2 separate regions of the Homo sapiens genome follow, and region 2 is linked to region 1. Evidence: fine-mapped expression QTL. Tissue or cell type: hypothalamus. Region 1 holds a variant in brackets; the other region holds the start of a gene. All regions are shown on one strand. Distances are from middle to middle.

The links. PIP is the estimated chance that this variant, and not a neighbour inherited with it, causes the effect.
Region 2: LRMDA starts here. The variant in region 1 is fine-mapped to the expression of LRMDA in hypothalamus (GTEx, PIP 0.92).

The regions. Positions count from the first base shown.
Region 1 is chr10:76,425,257-76,433,883 of GRCh38, reverse strand. The region is part of intron 6 of LRMDA (leucine rich melanocyte differentiation associated); the gene reads right to left. Among named protein-coding and RNA genes, the nearest start is that of KCNMA1-AS1, 460 kb to the left of the region's middle. RefSeq lists an enhancer at 74-771. The variant T/C (reference allele first, on the strand shown) is at 4,114.
Region 2 is chr10:75,426,854-75,435,480 of GRCh38, reverse strand. It overlaps LRMDA (leucine rich melanocyte differentiation associated), which reads right to left and starts at 3,857. Exons shown (of 7, transcript NM_001305581.2): 1 at 3,727-3,857. The coding sequence starts at 3,756. LOC107984293 (a long non-coding RNA gene) reads left to right here and starts at 3,871. Exons shown (of 2, transcript XR_001747703.2): 1 at 3,871-3,959; 2 at 5,171-8,627. RefSeq lists enhancers at 3,048-3,548, 3,549-4,049 and a silencer at 3,808-3,907.

The DNA of each region.
Region 1 (8,627 bases):
ATTTCCTATGCTGTCGCCCAAGTCACCCTGGTTACATCAGTGTTCAGCTGAGTCAGAGCATTTGGATGGGCTCACTCTAAGAGGGTTAGAATTTGATCCCATGACAAATAAGAATGGTTACCTGGCACTGCAGGTGAAGAACAGGCTGGAGCAATCTCAGGGCTGGGGCTAGAGGAAAACACAAACCAGCAACATGATCCATGGCTTCAGTCAATACTCAGGAAAGCCTATTTCTGTTTCCCCAGTGCGTTCCTGAGAGCAGTGTTGATTACCAGATAACCAGAGTCTTTGGTCTTTCACAGAATCAACAGCTTGGCAGCCACAAAGTGACAGGCATCAATACTAATCGCACAAGCCTGTCTGTAGCTGGACCCCAGGACAGGCCGTGCTCCACCTGCCTGTCCAAGAAATGCACGCCAGGTCCTCCCCATGGAAACCACTAACAACACTTATTAGCTGTTTCCTTGCCTGCTAAGTGGTCTGTGCCTCGTTCTGGCTCCCATTATTATATTCATTTCAGCCTGTGTCCTGAAACCTGATACCTTTGTACTTGGGGGGTGTGGTGTCTGCCACCTGACAATGATTTGACATGACACAGTGACAGAAAACAAGGAGACAGGATGGAAATAAAAGAATAAGAAATCCAAGCAGCTACACTGGCGGCTCCAGGCAGGGGTGCCCATTAACACAGATACCTGTGAGAAGGAACACAGGCCCCACTGCCACCCTGGCCAGATCACTTAATTCAGCTGCACTGGACTGGGAGACAGCAATCTTCCTTTGCTGAACAAGGCCCCATGCAACATTATAGTGGGTTCTTCACTTATACTTCTGAGTTCAATGTGGCTCCACTTCTGCCCATTCCCTCCCCTCCCAATTCATCCGCCAGCAGTCCATTCTGTCCTTCTTCCTGGGCCTCTGTGCTGATAATCACAGCTGCCATTAGGGTGGTGGCACTGGTGGCACACATGGCCACCACATGCTAGTGCTATAGTCATTCAAGAGACCAGCTAGGGCATGTGGGGAGGGGGCAATGAGGTGAGCCCTCGGCCCGTGGAAGCCACTATGCAGACACAATACTGGAAACAGTGGGGTTTCCAAAGAGCAATTTCAAGGCTAGGGTCCATGACTAACTGGCAGTGACATGAGCCAGTGATAAGCCTATTCTGCGCCTCATCTGTAAAATGAACAAGATGGACTAGATCACTGATGCTTGAACCTTCTGTTGTTACATTAGACAATAAAATTTTTTCATTAAATGATATTTTCCTTTAGACCCCAGTGTATTGAATGGATAAAAATGGATTTGGAAGCCAGCTTTGGGAGCCCTGTTAGCTCCACCCTGATGGGTCACCACTTGTTCCCCCTGCACCTCTGACAAGTCTCATTGGAATGCTAGAATTCCGCATAGCTCAGTGTGAAAGGCATGGGGCCAGATCATCTCAAAGTTCCCTTCTAGGCCAAATGTTGCTTTGGGTGAGGCATGGGAGACAGAGAAATTGTAGGGAAGGTTTGGGGATTTGCACCGTGTTAGAATGATCTTTCCTCTAGCATTTTATGTTCTCTTTTTGTCATCAACAGCCCTACAGCTCAGGGCTCTGTGGAGATCTATGGCAAGACAGAGCCAGTAAAGGAGCACCACACCAGCAGCACCCCCAGGCCCACACCCACGACATTTCAGAAAGTTCAGCTTTCACTTTTATACACACTGGAACTAAAATACAGGGAAAGAAGTCAAGGGAAAGTTTGGAGATAATCAGCCAGGACTCAAGTTTTACAAAGGGAAATTAAGCACCAGTACACTTGCTATATTTAGGATCTGTATTAGTCCATTTTCACACTGCTGATAAAGACATACCTGAGACTGGACAATTTACAAAATAAAGAGGTTTATTGGACTTACAGTTTCACGTGGCTGGGGAGGCCTCACAATCATGGCAGAAGGTGAAAGGCATGTCTCACATGGCAGCAGACAAGAGAAGGGAGCTTGTACAGGGAAATTCCCGTTTTTTAAAGCCATAAAATCTTGTGAAACTTATTCGCTATCATGTGAACAGCACGGGAGACCACCCCCATTATTCAATTACCTCCCACCAGGTTCCTCCCACAACATGTGGGAATTCAAGTTGAGAATTAGGTGGGGACACAACCAAACCATATCAGGATCTATCATCTCTTTATCATCCACAGCACCACCACCATCACCAATGACAACGAATCCAGCATAGGTCTAAGTTATCATCCACTGGGATAATAACAACAGGCAGCACTGATTATACTCTTATTATTGGTTATTATGAGGATGTTACATTTATAACTGCCCTAGAGCAAGGCACCATTATTGTCACTTTTAAAAATGAGAAAACTGAGCTACATACAGGAGACTAGTGACTTTCTCAAGCCCCAGAATTTGCAAGTAGTAGAGAAGTGATTTGAACTTATGCAGTCTAACTCTGAAGTCTGTGCTTTTAACACTGTCGTCACCCAGGGAAGCAGGCTGATGTGAGGAGAGAACTGAGCTGTAGGAGGGCTCACACAAACTGTGCAGTCAGCAAAGTTGCTTTTCAACAGCAAAAAGCTCCTAGTTATGGGCCCGTTCGCATCCATGCTCCTCTCTGCATCAGCCCGCCTCAAACACGTAAATTCACTCCCCAAGCACCTAGTTATTATCTTGCTTGTTCTCTACTTAAAGCATTCAGAAAATATTTAGATCTTTTTTTTCCACCCAGATGTAAATAACTGATAATAGGTTAATCTGCTTCTTCCTCCCAGGGAGAGACATATTTTTCACCAGAAACCAAAGCCTTGAACTGTAGAGATAAAGCTCCACTTGTAAAATTTCAATGTCAGCATAGAATAAGGATTATGAATTCTTGAAATCATCAGAGTCTTCCTAGTGTCCCTGAAGTCTATTAGGTGGTTTTTAATTCATTAGGAAAAAACTATCCAGATGGAGAAATGGATATAATCTCTACTCCAGATACTATTCAATGGAAAAAATACTCAGAAAGCTTTGGCCTTGAATTTGTGGAGGCAGAGGAGGGGGTTGTGGGACAATTAGGAGGTTGAAATCACTCACTGACCCTATCTGAAACTCTATATTCTATACTGCCACCCTTGGACCACCCTTGGGTTAACATTTCCTCTGAACATTCTAGCTCCCTTAGGTTATTTATTTACTTACATTTGATATTTTCTTTTACAGAGCAGAGAAAATGGAAGGAAAACAATATTCCTATCCCTAAAAACACTCACTGTGGTTCCCTAGGAGGAAACAGTAGAGCTCCAGGAGACAAAAATCCAGCTCTCAATTCCCTCCTGCCTGCCTGGAGAAATCACTCAGCACCCGTAATGAGAGGATGCAGTGGCTAATTTTGTACCATAAATCACAAGGTTAATACTATGACTAAAAAGTGATACCATCAGCTCCTTTCCTTCAAGGCTGTTAGATCTTAGTCAATTACTTATGAACAAAGATTTAAAGACTTCAGAAGCCCCTCTGCCAACAAAAGATGCTTTTACTGTTAGCTTTCTTTCCCCTTGAAAAGATTCTTGAACTCCTCTGGAAGGGGCTCCAGTGTGTTCTCAGCATTTATAGGAAGAGGTTTGCAAGGGAGCAGCAATTAACAATGCCAGGCTAATAAAAATCCTGGAGCCTCAGTATCTTCTGAATGATACTGCCGACACTCCTAAGGTAGCCTAATACGAGAGGAGAAAACACACAGAGATGGGGGAAAATATACCTTGTTTCCGACATATTTCTCAAGCTGTTTAAATATGAAACAAAATCCTACCAGGCTACAAGTTTCCAGCTGTTATGATATCATAAGATAAATTTACAGCTAGAGAAACAGCATGTTTGCTTTTATAAAGTATGGAAATATAAATGTTCCAAGTGTTAAAACTGTCCAAACAAATTAATTCAAGTAAAAATAGTTGTCTCGGATCTGGTTCTCTCACATTTGCTTTCTTTTTATAGAGCTCACCAGCACACTTCTCTCAACGCAGAGAGGAGAGGAAGTGCAATTCCATCTCGGCAGGCGCCTTTTCTGCATTTGGAAACCCAAGGAGCCCTACAGCAGGGAAGCTGGGTGGCCCCTGCCCAGGCCCCCA[T/C]GGCTGATCTATTAATTAAAATCTTAATTTAGCCTCTTTGCAACAGAAGAAAGACACTGTGAAAGGGGACTGAGGCTAAAAATCTTACGATGTGCTCCCATTTGGGGATGTTCATTGTAGCTACAATGAAAAAAGAGTTTCTTTCCTCAGTGACTTTGAAAAGAATAGAGTGGTGATTAACAGCAATTTTTTTTTTAATGAAACGCAACCCGTCATCCCTGTCATCTTCTGGCCATCCTCGCTTGTACGCGCCTCCCTGACAAGAGGAATAATAATCATCATACATCACTGCTCTCCACGTCCAATCACCTAAATCTTCCCTCGCTGCAGCCTCTGAGACTCAATTACTTTATTGACATGCAATCTTCATAAGGGGAGAAATATTGTGCATGTAAGGTCACTTGGTTATGAAGACATATTATCATATTATCTGCATGAGGGTTGCAGGGCTAAGACCTGACAGAGCTAATTATAATGGTACATGATAGAAAGCTCAGTACACATTATTCGCATGGCTGCACTAAAGGTGAGCTAAGTCCATGACATCATGAGTTTTTGAGAAAATAATGCAACATTGGCTTGGCGGCTGTAACTTTTTTTTTTTTGTTAATTCTCCAACATTTTTACTTTGGGGTTTTTCATGCATGATGAAATAACTAGTTAAGGGATTCCTCCTATCTTGAAAAAGGCAGTGGCATGCCAGTGTGGGGAATGTGTGTGTGTGTGTGTTTGTGTGTGTGTGTGTGTATAATTGGCAGGGTTATTTCCTCATCTAACAGCAAGGTTTCAGTCCACTTCTCAGCAACTGAAATGACAATGACTCAAAGGAGAAAGGCAAATGGATACAAATTGGTCAACATGATAACAGAGTAAAACTTCTTTACCTCACCCTCAATTAACCCCTTCTCAAATCCTTCCCCTTTCTTTCTCTTGCTTTGCCTGGCAGAGCCTTAAGTTGCTGGGATTTAGCAGTCCTGAATATGGTTTCTTTGTTCAGATATACAGTTATTTGAGCTTTTGCCAGCAGCCACGTGCTAGAAGTTCCATGCCTTGCTAAGATGCACAGCTAGTGAGTCATTCTCTTTTTTGCATCCTCAGCCGGTTTACCCTCCTCATTCACCCCCACTGTATCTCATAGGGAGAGGCCAAGATGCTGAGCTCCAGTGGCAATCTCACAAGAAAGGAGTATCCAAGAAAAAAGTCTAGGCCAAGTCTCTGTGTTTTCTGGTCTTGGCACAGTTAATGTGGGGCCTGGAAGGAAAACTGGATCGATGGATCTATGATGGGTCTATAGCTCATGAAGTTAAATGATGAAATTAACTTCATCATGAAGTTAAAAGATGAAATTAACTTCATCATGAAGTTAAAGCCATGTCAATCTCCACAGATGGGCCTGAGCCAGCATCAAGGATGAAGGTCTGGACACCTAGTCTACTTAACAGGGGTTTATGAGCTTTCAAAAACAAGTAAAGGAACCATTCAAAATATCACTACAATCCAAGACAGGCTGGCTCCTCCTAGATATGCTCTCTCTCTCTCAATGAAGAACTAATTCAATAAAGTAGAAGAAAGCACTAAAGACTTCTAAACTCCAGAAACTGATTTAGTCTTGTAGCATGAGTGTTTTGGCTCAGCCACAAGAAGTAGTGAGCATAATAAGAAATTAAGGTTGTCCAAAGCCTGGCAGAGACACAACAAAAAAAAAGAGAATTTTAGACCAATATCCCTGATGAACATTGATGCAAAAATCCTCAATAAAATACTGGCAAACCGAATCCAGGAGCACATCAAAAAGCGTATCCACCATGATCAACTGGGCTTCATCCCTGGGATGCAAGGCTGGTTCAACATATGCAAATCAATAGACATAATCCAGCATATAAACAGAACCAAAGACAAACACCACATGATTATCTCAATAGATGCAGAAAAGGCCTTTGACAAAATTCAACAGTCCTTCATACTAAAAACTCTCAATAAATTAGGTATTGATGGGACTTATCTCAAAATAATAAGAGCTATTTATGACAAACCCACAGCCAATATCATACTGAATGGGCAAAAACTGGAAGCATTCCCTTTGAAAACGGGCACAAGACAGGGATGCCCTCTCTCACCACTCCTATTCAACATAGTGTTGGAGGTTCTGGCCAGGGCAATCAGGCAGGAGAAGGAAATAAAGGGCATTCAATTAGGAAAAGAGGAAGTCTAATTGTCCCTGTTTGCAGATGACATCATTGTATATCTAGAAAACCCCATCGTCTCAGCCCAAAATCTCATTAAGCTGATAAGCAACTTCAGCAAAGTCTCAAGATACAAAATCAATGTGCAAAAATCACAAGCATTCTTATACACCAATAACAGACAAACAGAGAGCCAAATCATGAGTGAACTCCCATTCACAATTGCTTCAAAGAGAATAAAATACCTAGGAATCCAACTTACAAGGGATGTGAAGGACCTCTTCAAGGAGAACTACAAACCACTGCTCAATGAAATAAAAGAGGATACAAACAAATGGAAGAATATTCCATGCTCATGGATAGGAAGAATAAAATTGTGAAAATGGCCATACTGCCCAAGGTAATTTATAAATTCAATGCCATCCCCATCAAGCTACCAATGACTTTCTTCACAGAATTGGAAAAAACTACTTTAAAGTTCATATGGAACCAAAAAAGAGTCCGCATCGCCAAGTCAATCCTAAGCCAAAAGAACAAAGCAGGAGGCATCAGGCTACCTGACTTCAAACTATACTACAAGGCTACAGTAACCAAAACAGCATGGTACTGGTACCAAAACAGAGACACAGACCAATGGAACAGAACACAGCCCTCAGAAATAATACCACACATCTACAACTCTCTGATCTTTGACAAACCTGACAAAAAACAAGAAATGGGGAAAGGATTCCCTATTTAACAAATGGTCCTGGGAAAACTGGCTAGCCATATGTAGAAAGCTGAAACTAGATCCCTTCCTTACACCTTATGCAAAAATTAATTCAAGATGGATTAAAGACTTAAATGTTAGACCTAAAACCATAAAAACCCTAGAAGAAAACCCAGGTAATACCATTCAGGACATAGGTATGGCCAAGGACTTCATGTCTAAAACACCAAAAGCAATGGCAACAAAAGCCAAAATTGACAAATGGGATCTAATTAAACTCAAGAGCTTCTGCACAGCAAAACAAACTACCATCAGAGTGAACAGGCAACCTACAGAATGGGAGAAAATTTTTGCAATCTACTCATCTGACAAAGGGCTAATATCCAGAATCTACAATGAACTCCAACAAATTTACAAGAAAAAAACAAACAACTCCATCAAAAAGTGGGTGAAGGATATGAACAGACACTTCTCAAAAGAAGACATTTATGCAGCCAACAGACACATGAAAAAATGCTCATCATCACTGGCCATCAGAGAAATGCAAATCAAAACCACAATGAGATATCATCTCACACCAGTTAGAATAGCGATCATTAAAAAGTCAGGAAACAACAGGTGCTGGAGAGGATGTGGAGAAATAGGAACACTTTAAACTGTTGATGGGACTGAAAACTAGTTCAACCATTGTGGAAGTCAGTGTGGTGATTCTGCAGGGATCTAGAACTAGAAATACCATTTGACCCAGCCATCCCATTACTGGCTATATACCCAAAGGAATATAAATCATGCTGCTATAAAGACACATGCACACGTATGTTTATTTGCGGCACTACTCACAATAGCAAAGACTTGGAACCAACCCAAATGTCCAACAATGATAGACTGGATTAAGAAAACGTGGCACATATACACCATGGAATACTATGCAGCCATAAAAATGATGAGTTCATGTCCTTTGTAGGGACATGGATGAAGCTGGAAACCATCATTCTCAGCAAAATATCACAAGGACAAAAAACCAAACACTGCATGTTCTCACTCATAGGTGGGAACTGAACAATGAGAACACTTGGACACAGGAAGGGGAACATCACACACCAGCGCCCGTTGTGGGGTGGAGGGAGGGGGAAGGGATAGCATTAGGAGATACACCTAATGTAAATGACAAGTTAATGGGTGCAGCACACCAACATGACACATGTATACATATGTAACAAACTTGAACATTGTGCACATGTACCCTAGAACTTAAAGTATAATAAAAAATATATATGAAAAATAAATAAATAAATAAAATAATAATTATTATTAGTAAGTTATAGCTTTTGCATGCCAAGTACTGCCTACAAATAACCTTTCTTCCTTATAATCCTTCAAGGTAGATTTTATCTCCATTTTAAAAGTTAAGAAATTGAGACGCAGAGGTTAAGCAACTTGGCCAAGTCCACACAATCAATAAATGACTGAGTTGGGATTTGAACTTGAGTCTGTCTCATGACAATGGTTAAAAAAGAAAAAAAAAGAAAAAAAATTAAGGTTGTCTAAATTCTCTCTTATTTAATACTCTAGGAACTCAAACATCTGAACTCCTTATACTAATGGCTCAAAAATAATGGTGA
Region 2 (8,627 bases), 1.0 Mb after region 1:
GCCGACCAGGCTGAAGGGCTCAAATCAGCTGGAAAAGGCTTAAAAGCAGCAAGCAGCCACTGCCAGACATTGCAAGCAATGCTTGAAACTAGAAAAAAGACTTAAGAAGTGCTTCTGAGGGAAGACATTACCTCTCAGGATGTCAGGAAGCTTCTTAGAGCACAGGACCACCTAATGTAAGATTCAAGGCCAGAAGAGCCAAACCAAAAATAGTTTGCTTCTTCAGCAAAAGGGAGACGGGATACAGAGATTAATAGATCTTAAATGGCACAGAAGCAAGAGCATATCCAGAACACCATTGCATTTAGTCAATTACCTTGACTTAGACTGCATTGAGGAACAAAGATTCAAACTTATAATTTCTCTATTTTCTATAATTTGTACCCTAAGACCTCCACCCTGTGTGGAATAACAGGAAGGGACACCATTACCAGGCAAATGAAAATATAACAAGTTAAAGACCCCTACGGAGAAGAAACTAGAAAGGGAAAGGAGAGTGTCTGGAAGGGGTCCCCACCTATGTACACACCCAATCCCTCCAAGCCGAAGCTGCAGAAAATAACCAAACTGCAGAAGACTGCAGGTTTCACTTTGCGTTGGGACTCTCTGGCTCCCAGGGCATTTCTGGAGATGATGAGTTTGTCAACAGTCAGATGTTGAGGAGATTATTTTTTGATGCCTACCCCTAGCCAGGGGTGGGAGATCCTCGATTTTAAATTTGTAATACTGAGCTGGGCACAGTGGTGCACACCTGTATTCCCAGCTACTCAGGAGGCTGAGGCAGGAAGACTGCCTGAGCTCAGGAGTTCAAGGCTGCAGTGAGCTATGATTGCGCTACTGCATGTCAGCCTGGGCAACAGAGCAAGACCTTATCATTCATTCATAAATAAATAAGTGTATGTGTGGTACTGGAAGCTGTCGGAGTAGAAACAACCATAGGTACAAATCTGATTCCCGGTACTGCCACTGCTAGCTGTGTTGTCGCGGATGAGTCACCATCTTCGAGTCTGTTTCCTCTTCTGCAACTGGGCTAACACTAACTCCTCCAAAGGTGTTAAGAATAATGTAAAAACCAACATTTATTAAATGCCTATCATGTGCTTGTTATCTATTCAATCCTCATGAAACAGCCCCATGCATATTATCGTCCCTATTGTACTTACAGGAATGCGATGAGCTAACATATTAAAAGTGCACAACACTGTCCTTGGCACCCAGTGGCCACTCTGTTAAACAGCTGTTGAATCAGACCACTCTCCCCACAGAAGGGATTCATTATTCCAATATCTCTTGGGCGCAAGATTTCAGTGCCCAAATTCCAAGTTTGTATTTGTGTCTACGATCGTATTACGTTGTCATAAGCTAGAGGAAAGAGAAATGACTTAATGCTGAACATAAATGATGCATTCAAGCCAAGAGAAGCCAAATGAAGTCAGACCCATGGCAAATGAAAAGCCTTTTGCAGAGAAAAGCAATAGGAAGACTGCAACATCCCCAGGCATGTGGCATCATAGGCCTGTGGAGCTCCTAAAAACCAGCTCCACAGCAGTCAACCCATAGTGGCATTAAAAGCAGTGACCTAACTTCAAGCCACGCAGCATTCATCTCATTAAATTGTTTAATTGCATAGGGTTTTTTTTTCTTTGCACTTAAACCATCCCTTTATTTGGGATTTATAGGTCTCTGGATATGGGAAAGTTGTCTCTGGCTTCATGTTTTTATATTTGAGTAACATTGTAATAAAAACTATATTCACACTATGGGCTCATGGGAAGTTTTGCGGGTTTTATTTTCCTCCCTTTAAGAAGGATCTACTAAAGTCTGACAAGTACTGTTCCATGCTACCCACATCCAAGGTGCTACCTCTTAAAGCGGCCGCCATTAGAAATCGCTGGGAGCAGAATGTAGAAAAAACAAACAAACAAACAAACAAACAAAAAAACCACCTCCGGGGCCAGACACTCAAATCCACTAACCTGGGCAGTTTAGGAAATGGGGCACTAAGACTCCAGGGGCATTTTCCCAGCCTACCTTCTTAGCTCCTCCCCAGGCAACTCGGTCTAATAAAACAGTCCCCAAGGGCCTAAAATGCCTCACCCACACTTCCATGAATGCCCTTGGGCTGTTTGGAGTAGGCTAAGAACAGGGGCTGCAGGAAAAATCGAATCTAGGAAACGGAGGAAGAGCAAAGGGAAAGGAAGCACAGGAAAGTGCTCAGCCCCATGAACTTGTAGCAAGGTACACCGGGAGAACACCAAATCTGAAACGCAGAGAGACCTAGGGTCTGGGGGGCAGGGAACCCTCCTTCTTAGGTAGATACTCCAAGAGAAGGAAAAGACCCTCTTGTCCAGCCCCTCCCTCCAGGCAGTAAATTAACTCCCAGAAAAAAAAAGCCCCTTTCCCCGATGGCTGAACAAGACCCGTCATTTTTAGCCTCTCCGCAGGCTGTTAACTCACTTCTGAACTCTGGTCTTTCTCCAGCTCTCTCCTCCCAGGCTGTGGGTCAAGGGACAGAGCCAGCATTCCTGAGCAACAAAACTGTTAAATGGGGGGTGCACAGAGACAAAGGAAAGGCTAATTTCCAACAACACCTGGCATGGTGCCTGGCATACAGTAGGCACTCAATAAACATGTGTACCTGATGAAACGACAGGACTCTGGAAAAAAAGAAAACAGGCAGCGGCTAGTTTAATGGGCTGCACAGTTGGCCCTCACTGCATCTGTAGGAGCTGTAAAAACCCCTAGAATCTCCTCTAAGGAGGAATCATTCCCTTCAGCCCAAAGTAATCTCAAAATCCAATTGTGCCTGACACTACCTGCCTTAGGCAATCCAAGAGGAGAGCTTCAAAAACTCAGAACTATTTCTCCAGGGTGTGCAGGGAAAGGTGGGAAGTAAGAGGGCTCTGGCTTCATCAGAGCAGAGAAGAGGTTAAAGACAGAGAACTGGCTTTTCCAGCAGGTAAGAAAGACACCTGGTCCCAGAGTGGCTGGGTTCATCCCTCCAACAATGAACACCTGAGGCTTCACTACAGAGCTCAAAGCATGTGAGACTGGGTGTCTGGCACCCAGGATTGAAACTGGCGTGTTGCCATTCATCACAGACTCCTGTTCAAGAAATCGAGTGTGGAAAGAGAACTGGAGGTCGGTGGCCTTCCATCAGCCTTTGGCTATGGCGTAGCCCATTCAGCGCAGGGCCCACCAGCACCCTCATCTCCAGGGATGTGCTGGGACTTTGGGTACCCTAGACACTTTTGCCTTCATAAACCCCTTCCTCCATTTACAAATAAGTAAATTTGTATATTACAACTGCATTGGTATAAAGATGACTATATCAATGTGATTTATCAAAATGGATTCTTTGACCAAAAGTTTTTAAAATTCAGATTATGAAATTGGAACATTTTCTGTGGGCCCCCAAAAGCAGCGGGGGCCGTCAGCACTGTGTCCGCTGGGCCTGCTCAGTGAGGCGCTAAGGGCAGAAGGAAGTGGGGAGAACGGGAGACCTTGCGGGTGTTCTTCCCGCACATCAAGGGGGTGTGCCAGGCCCGAAACGAGGTCTGTCCTAGCCCCACTAGGGCGAGCCTGAGCACCTGAAGCTCACCCCCTGCAGACGCAGCCCCCTGAGGCGGGGACAGGGGTGTCTAGGCCCTGGGGAGCCTCTGTGCCCCGCTGTCCCTCCCCACGCGGACTGCGCCCCGGGCGGAGGCGGGGCTGGCCGGGACTTACTTGAGTTCCACGCACCACGAGCCCGGCCATGGCGGCCAGGACGCTGCGGGCGCGCGGGACGGAGCGCGGGGGCGCGGCGGCAGCAGCGGGGAGCGCGGCAGGGGAGCGCGGCGGGCGCACAGTTCCGCACTGGGCAGTCAGCTGACCCGGCGGAAGCCGGAGGCGCGGGCTAGCCTCGGGGACCTCAGCTCCGCCGCTCGCCGCCGCCGCCCCTCGGCCCGGTCTCCGCGCAGGTGAGCCCTGGCCGCCCGCTGCAACAGGTGGCCCGCAGCGCCCCGCGCCCCGACGGCGGCCTGACCCCGACTGCCCGCGCCCCTCCCTCCCCCGGATGTCCCAATGCCCAAAACTCCATGCCCACAGCTTTATCGCGTTTGTCTGGGCCACGCCTGAGGTGGGGGTATTCCTATCAGGGGCGCCCTTTCTGAGCCGTTAGCCGGGCTGTAGCCAGCCGGGCCTTTCCTGCATTTCGCAAGCTGGGTTACATAATGGACCTCAACTGCAGCGAGGAGGGGCCTCTTGGCTGAACGCCCCTCCTCATCAAAGCTGGGGAGAGGGAAAGTTAGAAGGTTGAAGGACTCCTGGTGCGGCCCAGTTTCCATTTGTAGGAGGGGAGGGGGATTGGGGGGGTTGAATTTCCCTATAAATAAAACGCTGGCTTGGTGAAGACCACCCCACCCTTTCCCTGTGGCCTCTAAGAGTTGACAATAATAAACCCTGGGGAAGGATAATTGGCTGGTGACCCCAAATTTCAGGCTTCTCTTCTCCTGCTCCTCAGAGGGCAAGAGATTTGTGAGGCTTGAAGTTATCAGTGGGGTTATTCGCTGTTCCCCACCCACCCCATCCCCACCTGGAAGAGCTGGCCACGGGCCTCCTGTCTGGATGAAAGTAGGCCCAGTGGGCAGGTAACTCCCTAAACCCATGCCTGTTTTTCTCTGAAATTCTCTGGAAGGATCCAGATTTTCTCCTTGCCTATTCTTGCCTCCAAGTCCAGGATGCACAGAGCTACCAGATATCAACTGGTTGTCATCTTCCACTCTTGCTGCAGCTAAGAGCCAGCCCAGCCTTAACTGGCATCGTCTCTCAGACAGCCCCGGTCCTAACACATTGTTAGGTGGGCCCTTGTCAGCATTTTGATGAGCAGTGTTGATCTCGGAGGGTTGACCTTCCTGCCCCTCTCTCAGCTGGGAGGAGCAGGCTCAGAAGAGTAGAGCAGTAAGAATGCAGTCTTGACTGTGTTTACTTTGGGGGATTCCAGGAAATGCTGCAACAAAAGGTCCTGCAGGCCAAAAAAGAAAGCTTACCCTCCAGAGATAAGGGGATCAAAGGGAACCTTCCCAGGCCTGTTGCCCCAAGGACCAGCTCCCCCGCCTTCTCCCTCCTTCTCTGCTGGACGCGCCCTCTCTGGTCCATTGTGCACTTTTGTCTGCTTTTCCTGCCTGAAAAGGAGGAAGTGAGCCCGGACCCAGCCAGCACTCTGCCCTCCGCAGCTGCCTTTCAGCTCAGCTTTCCTAGAAGGGCTTTGACAGATGGAAGAGGACTTGTGGAAACAGGCCCAAGCTGACTCAAAGATGAGATTGGAGAACGGCTCTCCCTTCCCCCACCAGAAGGGGGTTACTGAAGGTCATCTCATCCATCCCCCTGCCTCCATACACAGCTGGGTCATCTGAGCATAGGCTGTTCTGCAGACACTACCAATGTCACCAAAGTGGGCTGGCATCTTTCCCCCTTTCCACACCCTCTCACTACTGTTGCCTCCTCCACATAGCCCCAGGGCAACCATTTTAAAAGCCCAATTAGATCCTACCTAAAATCTTTCAATGGCTCCTAATCAAGTAATAATTAATACAGTCCAGAATCTTTAGTATGTCCCTGAAGATCTCTTATAATCCCATCAATTCTTACCTCTTCAGCCACCTGTCCCAGCTCTCCCGTCCTCTGGCTTCACAGAAGCTGTTAGTTTCAGCTGGAAATGCTTCCCCACCTACTGCTGTCTCTGCTTGGTGAACACATCAAGAAGGCCAGTTGATGGTGTGGGGAAGGATCATGTGCAGAAATCACAAAAATTAAGATCAGGATAGCTCTGTTGGAGGGGGGCTTTAGTGTTGGAACTGTAAACTGATAACAATAGGGAGCTATTGAAAGTTCTTGAGCAAAGTAGTTGTCTTAGTCTACTAGGACTGCTGTAACAAAATGCCATAAACTGGGTGCTTATAAACAATAGAAATTTATTTTTCACAGTTCTGGAGGCTGGGAAGCTGAAGATCATGGCACCCACGATTTGGTGTGTGGTGAGGGCCCATTTTCTGGTTCCCAGACAACGGCCTTCTTCCTGTGTCCTCAAATGGTAGGAGGGACAAGCTAGCTCCTGTGGGCCTCATTTGTAACAGCACTAATCCCATTCCTGAGGGCTCCACGCCAATGATCTAATCACCCCCCACAAGGCTCCACCTAAGACCTTGGAGGTTATGATTTCAACATATGAATTTGGGAGGGACACAAATGTTCAGACCGTAGCAGAAGTAATTTCCTGAATGTTGTTGGGGGAGGACACCAGCAGAAACAAACTGGATTCACCTGTCCTTACTCCTCAGCTTTTGGAGTTAGTCTTCAGAATAGAAGAACAAGGAGAAGGAGGAGGGGAAAGGAGAATAGAAGGAACAGAAGGAGGAAGGGGGGAAGGGAGAAAGGTAAAAGGAAAAGAAAAAGAATCTGTGTCCCTGGACCAAGGAAGATTGGAAGCCGGGAGGGGGAACATCCTTCTACCTCCTTATCACTGTTGCCAACAAAAAGGAAGATTAAACAGAAATAGTAAAGTTCCTCCATAATGTAGCCCTCCCTCGGGGAGGGGAGAGAGCAAAAAACAAAACAAAACAAAAAAAACACTGAGATAAGACTGACCTAGGAGTTAGACAAATAATTCCTCCGGAATACAAAGACTTTACAAGGGTGAACATAGCAGACGAGTCCTGTAGGGGCTTCGTCCTGAACACAGCTCTTTCTGCCCCAGCCCCAGGAGCACTGAGGTAAAATATGGGCTCATGCAGTCACGGTCCTCTCACCCCACTCCATGACTCATTGAAAGTGAGCTGCTAGCTTCCTATCCTGCCCATCTTACTTCACAGCCGCTGTGCCCCAGCTTCTGGCCTTGTGCTAGGCACTAGGGACATCCCTGACTAATACTGTTCAGGAGAGACGCTCAGACTTGTGCACAGACATTCACAGCACTGTGTCAGCAAGAAGTGCTGTCATTGTGATCCTGTTTTCTGAACCCCAAATTGAAGCACGTAGCCCAGCTTGTACAAGTGCACTCAGGAGGACCACAAAACAGAAAGTTCAAATCCAACCTATGCTGACCACCCTGAGCCTGTGAATTCTGGAGCTCTGACGGGCACATAGAGAGCAACAAGGTTCAACTCATACAACTGGACATTCTCTTATCGCCCTTGATGAAGAGGGCAATATTTTATTCCTATTGTCATCATTGTTATTATTATTCTGCTTTGGCAGAAGAGGCCCTTTGCCTTAGAGTCCTTCCTCCATCACATTCCTGGGGACAAAAAGGAAGATCCTGTTTATTTCCAATCAAGGGAGTTGATTCTGGGGTCGGCCAGAACCAGTGAAACAGGAACTGATTCCTTAAATCTTCCAACTGTGCATTAGCAGCTGAGAGAAGAACAGGGCCAGTTAACCAAGTTTTGTTAGCATTCCTAACTATCCTTAGCTGTATTTCTCTTCAGCCTGGCCTCATTTCTTTCAGGCCCAGCCCCCGGGCAGGTTAAGATGGTTGCTGTAATTAATCATGCCGTGGGCCCTAATTCAGACTCACCACATTCAAATTTCAATTTAAAAAAAAAAAGGCGGGGTGTCTACTTAAGAAATGCTCCGCTTATGAAATGCTCTTTGTTGCCGAAGCAGCCCCCTTTCAGCCTAAAGGAGAAAGTCTAGGAAGTGCAGGAAAGAAGAAAGGTTTCCAGGGCCCTCTTCAAAGTACTTGCACATATGTGAGGGGACTGAGGATGATCTGTGCTCCAAAGCCCCTCCAGTATTTCCCAATCAGAACAAACTGAATTTTTAAAAATATATATTAAATACCATCATAATATCTAGGATGAGTGTTCATTCCACAAATGTTAATTTATTATTCTCAGTGCCTCTAGTTTTCCTTCTCTTTTTTTTTATTTTTATTTTTTTGAGACAGGGTCCCAGGCTGGAGGGTAGTGGCGCAATCATAGCTCACCACAGCCTCGACCCCAGGGCTCAGGTGATCCTCCTGCCTCACCCTCCCAAGTAGCTGGGACTACAGGCACTCACCACCACACCTGGCTAATTTTTTTGTATTTTTTGTAGAGATGGGATTTTGTCATGTTGGCCAGGCTGGTCTTGAATTCCTGGGGTCAAGCGACCTACCCACCTCAGCCTCCCAAAGTACTGGGGTTATGGGCATGAGTCACCGCACATGGCTGTTTTCCTTCTCTTTAGGTCTTAAAAGGTTTTGTCATTATTTCTCTGTGAAAATGCAAACAATAGGACTGAGCATGGTGGCTCATACCTGTAATCTAGCACTGAGACCAGCCTGGGCAACATAGTAAGATTCTCTTGCTAGAAAAATAAAAATAAAGTAAAATGCAAACATTAGTTGGCTGTGGAGAATGGAGTGGGTTTGAGGAAGGTGGGAGTGGGAAAGGAGCTTCTGCTTTTCACTCCATTTCTTCTGTGGTTTTGGTAACATGCGTATACTACTTTTATAATTAAAAACAAAAAAGGAGGAGATTGGCACAGAATAGAGAATTTACCATGAAAACTACTATCTGCTAATCTCTTAGTACTATTTTAACAAATCCTGAAAACAGCAATGAGAAACAAATCTTATTTCCCATTTTACCTGGAACTCGCCGCAACTC